Regions from separate parts of the Homo sapiens genome. Here region 1 is linked to region 2. The links come from fine-mapping of genetic effects on gene expression. Tissue or cell type: anterior cingulate cortex. Region 2 holds a variant in brackets; the other region holds the start of a gene. All regions are shown on one strand. Distances are between the middles of the regions.

Region 1 (4,544 bases), 44 kb before region 2:
AGCCAAGGCAATCCTAAGCAAAAAGAACAACACTGGAGGCATCACATTGCCCAACTTCAAATTATACTACAGTACTACAATATCCAAAATAACAAGGTACTGGTAAAAAAAAAAAAAAAAGCAGACACATAGACCATTGGAACACAATGGTCTAATGCAGACACATAGACCACTGGACAGAAAGCCCAGAAATAGTGCTGCACAACTACACCCATCTGATCTTCAGCAAAGCTGACAAAAACAAGCCATGGGAAAAGGATTCCCTTTTTAATAAATGGTGCTGAGATAACTGGCTAGCCACATGCTGAAGATTGAAAGTGGACCCCTTCCTTATACCATATACAAAGCTCAACTCAAGATGGATAAAATACTTATGTCTAAAACCCCAAAATATAAAAAACCCTGGAAGATAACCTAGGAATTACCATCCTGGACACAGGAATGGGCAAATATTTCATGACAAAGATGCCAAAAGCAATTGCAACAAAAGTGAAACAAAACAAAACAAACAAACAAAATAATTAACTGTAAGAGCTTCTGCACAGCAAGAGAAACTATCAACAGAGTGAACAGATAATCTACAGAATGGGAGAAAATTTTTGCAGACTATGCATTTGACAAAGGTCTAATATCCAGCATCTGTAAGAAACTTAAACCAATCAACAAGCAAAAAATAAACAACCCCATTAAAAAGTGGACTAAGGACATGAACAGATACTTTTCGTGTTTTATTTATCAATCTTAATTTACTTCTTATCCATTTGGAGTGTCAAATAATGGCCAAAGAAATTGTAATTATAAATTAAAGAACAAAATTTAGCAAGTAAAAATAAACAAAAATAACACAAAAATGTATTATCCTTTTACTTTTGTCATTAAGCAACAAATATATTTCTGATAATTTGTCAAATATTTTCTCCTTGAATTAATAGTTTATCTTATTTAAAAGGGTATATTGTGTTTTTAAAATTTTATTTTAAATTTGGGAGTACATGTGCAAATTTGTTACATAGGTAAACTTGTGTAATGGGGGTTTGCTGTAAAGATTATTTCTTCACCCAGGTATTAACCCTAGTACCCATTAGTTATTTTTCCTGATCCTTTCCCTCTTCCCACCCTCTATCCTCCAGTAGGCACTAATCATTAGGGAAATGCAAATTAAAACCACAGTAAGATACCATCTCATACCAGTCGAATGGCTATTATTAAAAAGTCAAAAAATAACAGATGCTGATGAGGTAGTGGAGAAAAGGGTTCACTTATACACCTTTGATGGGAGTGTAAATTAGTTCAACCATTATGAAAGATAGCATGGTGATTCCTTAAAGACCTAAAACCAGAAATTTGACCCAGCAATCCCATTACTGGTATATACCCAAAGGAATATAAATCTATCATAAAGACACATGCATGCATCTGTTCATGGCAGCACTGTTGACAATAGCAAAGACATGCAATCAACCTAAATGCCCATCAATGGTAGACTGGATAAAGAAAATGTGATACACATATACAAAGGAATACTATGCAGCTATAAAAAAGAATGAGATGATGTCCATTGCAGGAACATAGATGAAGCTAGAGGCCGTTACCCTTAACAAACTAATGGAGGAACAGAAAACCAAATACCACATGTTCTCACTAATAATTGGGATCTAAATGATGAGAACACATGTACACATAGAGGAGAATGACAGACACCGGAGCCTACTTGAAGGTGGAGGGTGAGAGGAGGGGCAGGATCAGAAAAACATAACTATGTAGTACTAGTCTGAATACCTGGGTGATGAAATAATATGTACAACAAACCCCTGTGACATGATTTTACCTATATAACAAACCTACACATGTAGCCCTGAACCTAAAAGTTAAAAAAAATCAAATTATACTGTTAAATTATTAGCATGATTTATAAACAATATTGTTTTAGGATAAAGAATTTAATTGCTTGGCAATTGCAAATTATTAAATTAAATATCAATATGTTAGGGAGGCTAATTCAAATGATATAAATATTTAGGCTATAACAAAAGGCAGCTATATATTATTAACCTCACCTCAAAAAGGGGCATAATTTCCATTCCCTTGACTTTAAGGGTAAATTAAGAGAAATTTGTAAAGCACTCAAAAGAATATTCAATTCAATATGTGGTGGACAGTTGAGAAATTATGTGTTATCTATGTCATGGGAAAGCAACTTTTAAAAAGAAAACATTTCCTCTGAGGTTTTCACAAATAAGTGAAACTGTGAACCCTCATATGTACTGTGAAAGGACAATTTGAGGAGCATCTCTGATTAGCAGCAGATTTATTATTCTTTCCTCATTTCATGTTATACTTAATAAAACAAAACATACCTGTATACACACACATTCACTCACATTGAAGATGCAAGATGAAGAAAGATACATGACATTGAATGTACAGTCAAAGAAAAGGAGTTCTGCCCAAACATCTCAACTTACATTTAAAGGTATGGAATTTAATTTCATTTTTTCAATTGGTGTGAATTAACATGGTAGTTTCCCGTATCCTGTTCCATTGTGTTATTGGACTGTTTCAGTATTTGGGTGCTTTTCTTTCTCCGTCTCTGTATCTCTCTCACCTGTCCTCTCTTTCAATATTAATAATGATTTAAAAATAACAACCTCTCTTACCATTTAAGAAACACCAGTTTCCGGCACTATACAGAATGTTTTATCTATGTTCCTTCATTTAATCTTACAAATTTACTATGAGATAATCTCTCTCTCTCCCATTTATCAATGTGGAACTAACACTTACTTGTAATATTTTGTCTGATATAATTTCTTAAGGACATTCTCTGAGGAAATATGCATACTCAATTAAAATTAATAATTTCAAATTAGTGAATATTTGCTGCCATTCACCTCCTTATCATTCATAGAATATGGTGTTTTAATGCTATTTTTTTTTTTTGAGACGGAGTTTCACTGTTGTTGCCCAGGCTGGAGTGCAATGGCATGATCTCGGCTCACTGCAACCTCTGCCTCCCAGGTTCAAGCAATTCTCCTGCCTCAGCCTCCTGAGTAGCTGAGATTATAGGTGCCCGCCACCATGCCTGGCTAATTTTTTGCGTTTTTAGTAGAGATGGGGTTTTACCATGTTGGCCAGGCTGGTCTTGAACTCCTGACCTCAGGTGATCCACCCACCTGAGTCTTCCAAAGTGTTGGGATTATAGGCATGAGCCACCGCGCCCAGCCTTTAATACTAATTTTTAATTCAACTTCTCAAAAACTTTATGCTTTTCACCAAGTTGACTCAAAATAAAGTTTATACACCAGCAATCAACATTTTAATTTGCTACTTCAAGCATACCCTCCATACACAATGCAATTCCATCATGCCACCTTAATGTGATTTGGCAAAAGAGATAAGCAGAAATTAAAGACACAAATAATCACAGTTATAGAGACTGTCTGTTCTGTTCTGTTGCTTTCTAAATATTTCTCTTTTAATAACTTCACCCATGAAAATTTTACTTATCTCTTGAGTCCTTCCACAAGTATCATCCATCAGTGATTCATCTTAGAGTTACATACGTGCTATGTATAAGAAATTTATTGCCTCTTCCATGTGAATTTTTAGATTCCCATATTTTCAAGTCTTTACTTCCTACACTCAATTTTTATTTCATTTTTGGAAATTAGAGATATTAAACCTGAAAGACTACAACATGTAGTGACTTCTCTGCAGACTTTTTTCCACACTCTGTTCATAAATGTCTCTCTGAAGCAAAAATGTGCAGATTTTCGGCTCCCAGATATTTAAGTGACACATACTAATATTTATGTCTTGTACCTTTAGCTAATATTTATTAAAGCTTGAGGTAAGACGTATTTTATGTGAATTAGATTGACAATGTGAGCCTTGGGGTTATGATGTTCATTCATTTAACTTAATTTTGTGATGACATATTTGTAAATCTTTTCTCATATATTGAAAAACCTTTGTTGCCAGTGATAGTAAGAAATTACATAATTGCTCTATCCCACTATACATATGTAGTAGTTTCAGAATCACTATAGAAATAATATTATAATAATAGTTACTTAAAACAGATTAAAATGTTTTGCGGTTTTAAAAAATCCTTAAGATATATTCCATTGAGCATGCACAGTTAAATGTTTTAAAATCACTTTAAGTAATTCCTCTCTCTATAGTGAAGACACTAACAATACCTAGTTAGATTCCTTTTCTTCATTTTTTATGGATTTTTTTTCATTTTTGTTTAACTTACTTTATAGTAGCATAAAACATTTACATATTTTCAGTCAAACTTATATAATGAGGGGCCAAGTGTGGTGGCTCATGCCATTAATCCCAGCACTTTGGAAGGCCGAGGCAGGATGATCGCTTGAGGCCAGGAGTTCAAGACCTGCCTGGGCAACAAATCAAGACCCCCATCTCTACAAACAATAGAGATAAAAAAATTAATCAGTCATGGTGGCACATGCCTGTAGTCCTAGCTACACAGGGTGCTCAGGAGGGAGGATCTCTGAGCCCAGGAGCTCAAGGTTACA
Region 2 (4,233 bases):
TCAAATAATGTAAAGTAAGTCTGAATTTATTAGGACAAAACAGTCATATGCAAATCTCAATCTTGTTATAAGAAGGAATTTTCTAGTTTCACAAAAGAAACCACAAAATTTAATTCTTTTCTCGAAGGCTTTAACATTCTGCATCACAATTTCAATAAATAACGGTCATTCTAAACAAACAAAAATGTTCTTACCGTGCTTCTTTTAATCAGCGTTTTGATTTTCTGCTAGCAGCTTTGTGTCATGTCTTGCAGAAACTCTCTTCAAAGTTGTAACTTTATTTAACTTTAATATAAAAATGTTACTCTTGTTTTTACAGCACAGCTCCAAACTAGAGGTATACCACTTTTGAAGAGTAACTCAAAGTATAAATAGCATTTTGCAAACTGGAAGTAACCATGTGACTATCTATTAGTCATACTGTTGTTTATTACAATTTTCTTCTCGTCAAAAAAGAAAGCTTGCCAAGGAGGAAGGAAGTTTGTGATATAACAATTTAAAGCTGAAGAATAAACACATATTTTCTTACTTTCTCAACTGGGATTCTCATCTGAACCACAGAACACGAAATTGCTCAAGTGGCTGTTTTTCTGATTCATCCAGGAGTGGTACTTAACCACGTATCCTTCCAGAACTGTAGGAGAGGCTGATACTAATTAATTCAACAGCATTCTTTAGGACATTACTGCTTTCTTATCCTGTGTTAAGAAAGATCACCTTAAAAGCGATAGAATCAAAGAAAAAGCAATGGTTTAAACTTTGGCTACTGAAAGAAAAACAAAAACTATTATCTCTCTCTCAAAGACAAATGCGTGCAAAGTCACACGTGTGGGTGTGAGCACACACACAAACACACACAAAGACACACAGAGGGAAAAAAGAAAACGAAAGTAACAAAGTGCCCAGAACGTTATCATCAGCATACAAGATGACACCATTATGCTTTTGCTAAGTTACCAGGCCACAATTTTGTCTTCAAATCTGCTCTAATCAGTTTCCCAGTGATTTTGTATTACCCCTCAACAAATATATTAGGGAGGAAACTGAGGAGAAGAAGCCAGTGTCCCGCAAGCGGCTTCGGGATTAACACTGCATTTGTTCTGAGAGAGAAACTTGAAGAGGAAAAGCAAATGAGAATAGAGAAGAAACTGTAGTACAAAGGAATTAAAACAAAGAAAATATGAAGAGAATAAGAAATACAGGTTTAATCATTTCTGGGCAGAAGGAAAGGACAGATAACAAAATTGCTCTTTTCATTTTTGGACAGAAAAAAAAGACAGAAAATTCATGAGGAAATGAATATATTCTACCTTTGTTGTTAACAAAAGATTGTATCCAAAGAACTATTAGAAAAGCATGTATAGAAAAATATAGAGATTACTCAAGTATGGTTGAGTGAAATTTAGTTTTGTTCCAAAAAGGAAAACAGTCAAGATACAACAGTTAAGATATAAAACATTTTCAACACAGGGAAATGTTCCCCGCTGTTGCTTTGCAGTTCATCCTCACCCCTGAAGCCAGGCAGCAGCCAACTTACTGTCAATAAACATGAGCTTTGCTGGTTTTAGAAATTCCTGTTAAGCAGAATGATACAGTTGGCAATTCTTGTAAGTCTGATGTCTTTCACTGAGCATAATGTTTTTGAGTTTTATCCATGTTTTTGCACAGATCAGCAGTTAATTTCTTTTTATTACTGAGTAGTATTTCATTGTACAGACATAAAATATTTTTATCTATTTTATAATAAAATGTATCCATTATGACATTGAGCTTTTTCCACTTCTTGGATATCATAAGGTCAAAATAAACATTTATGCAAAAGTTTTTCTATTGACACGTTTTTTAATCTTTTGAAGAAATACCTGGATGTGAAACTGCTAGGTTACATAGAAAATGTATGTTTTATTTTATAAATGTATTTTTTTCCAAAAAGTTGTGCCATTCCCAACATGAATATTGGATGGTTCTATTTGCTCCACAT[A/C]AATAGCAATATTAGATATGCCCAATCTTTTTCAATTTAACCATTCTAGTAGGCGTGTAGTAGAATCTAAATGTGATTTTAATTTGTACATCTCTGATGTTATATTGAGCATTTACTCACGTGCGTATTGGTAACTCATATATCTTTTTTCAATGACCTATTTAAATATTTTTCCCATTTTTATGGATTTATTTGTTTCCTTATGGTGATTTTTAAGATTTTATATATATGTAAATATATATGTAGAGAAACATACACATAAAAATGTGTATATAAATAAGTAAAATGGGTTGCAACATAATATAGAAAAATTCCATTTTTAGATAAATGTATTAAAAATACTTTCCATCATTTGTATAGTGACTTTTCACAATTTTTTTTCTCAAAAATTTTAAAAATCTAGAAGCTTCTAAACGTTGGACTCTCTAATCCTAACAAAGTTACATGTTCTCCCTTGTCGAGGTCATGCCTTTTTCCTTAAAGAAAATATTGTGCCCTTCACACCCTCCTTACAGGAATCCCTCCCTTACTTGCCTTTCTTAGTTATTGGTCATAAGGCCAATAACTAAGGTTATGTGCTAAGCTTATAAGGGAGAGAAAGGGCTATACTCAGAATGAATTTGGACCTAACCAATATATAATAACAACAGCTTGGAGTGTACACAATGGGATTGGATTCTGAGGGTGCTAGATCATGAGAGAAACATAAAGCTGGATAAGGGAGATTTTATCAACATTAGGGCATTCAGTTGCAATACAGAATTTAATAACTTGGAAAAATACTGTGAACAGTGCTGACATACTGCTGAAATAACTCCAAGAAGATTGGAGAAAGCAATGGCTCACGCTGAGTAGAGTAACATTCCAGAATTCCCATGGCAGGTAGCTGAAGAAAAGATAAAAATGCTTAGAGAAGTGGGCATGCTACAGTGGATAAACTAGATAAGGACAGGAAACCCACCAACTGACTATGTTCTATGGGATGATATAATGGGCACCTTATTTACCAAAGCAGTAAGGAAGGCGCTGGTGGAAGAACTTAAGTCCTACATAAACATCACTGAGAAGCTTAGCATAGTTCTTCTCTACATGCCAAAGATTACAGTGGGAGATGTTCCCACAGAACTGAATTCAGAGAGAGTATTGGGACAGGGTTTGAAGTAGGAAACGCCAAGTGTCAGAGTGCCACTCTGAAACAAGCTGGGGCCAATTATAGTAATGAGGGTCAAATTGCAATAGCAGCCAGGATTACTGACATATAGAGCCATAGCAATGTCAGATAGAGCTCAATGTTCACAGAAGTAATATAGAGAGCCAAAAAGGGTGCTTCCACTTCTGTGCTGTCCTTTAACAACTGGTGGAACAGAGAAAAACACACACATAACAAGCTCTGGTTTGTAACACCAGCTGATTTCCGTGATGTAATTATTCCCACCATTGCTGATTTCAAGGTACCCAGGTGACATCACTGAACACACAGAGTTGGAAATAAATATGCAGTAGTACAGCATTACGTATTATTTTCACTATACGGATGTAACAGATGTTAATAATTTCATGCATGGATAATAGCAAAATCTTCTAAAAATCATCACAAATTGATGAGTTCTAAGTATTTATTTTATTAGCTTGGCATTAGGGCCACAATGACTCCAAATGTCATGACCCAGGTTAGGTTCCAGCCCATGCTGAGGTCTGAGGGGAGTGGGTGGATGGGCGATAGCTGAAAGAACACTTGGGGGCCCTAAGCAGGTGAAATGTAGTTTTATTTACCAACAGCGACTCTCTCACACTGTCTGCCTTTATCTCCGCTGTCTGCTCTGGCTCTGGGACTCCTGCCGCCGCCACGCCTGCAGCAGCACGCCCTGGCCTGCAAGGCCAGCTCTGTCAGGATTAGCAGCTTAACTCTTTCCCTCTGGGCACAAGCTCGTTCCTGGTTCCCCTCTGCCTGCCTTCAAGGCGACTGGCTCTCCCTTACAAGGGTCAATAGTGCTACTCTCTTTCTGGGCACCAGTGCGAGCCATGTCATGCCATGCCACGCCATGCTGAGCCAAGGCAAGCCCAAGAGCGCCTGTACAGCATCAGCAGGGCAGTTATACCTTTTCCAAACAATAGTGGATTTGAGCCAAGTATGAGCTTACACAAACAGGTTATATAACAAGTGGAGTTATATGCCTGCACTCCAAACTCATTAAGTCACTATGGCCTGGATGTCTGCCTCAGCCTACTTCTTGACCAAAGCACATTTATGC

The links. PIP is the estimated chance that this variant, and not a neighbour inherited with it, causes the effect. A credible set is the group of variants that fine-mapping cannot tell apart.
Region 1: it holds the start of KLRF1, and the variant in region 2 is the best candidate, but not a certain one, in a credible set for the expression of KLRF1 in anterior cingulate cortex (GTEx, PIP 0.80).

Annotation. Positions count from the first base shown.
Region 1 is chr12:9,825,157-9,829,700 of GRCh38, forward strand. It overlaps KLRF1 (killer cell lectin like receptor F1), which reads left to right and starts at 2,325. Exons shown (of 6, transcript NM_016523.3): 1 at 2,325-2,473. The coding sequence starts at 2,389.
Region 2 is chr12:9,869,011-9,873,243 of GRCh38, forward strand. It overlaps CLEC2B (C-type lectin domain family 2 member B), which reads right to left and starts at 344. Exons shown (of 5, transcript NM_005127.3): 1 at 195-344. The variant A/C (reference allele first, on the strand shown) is at 1,982.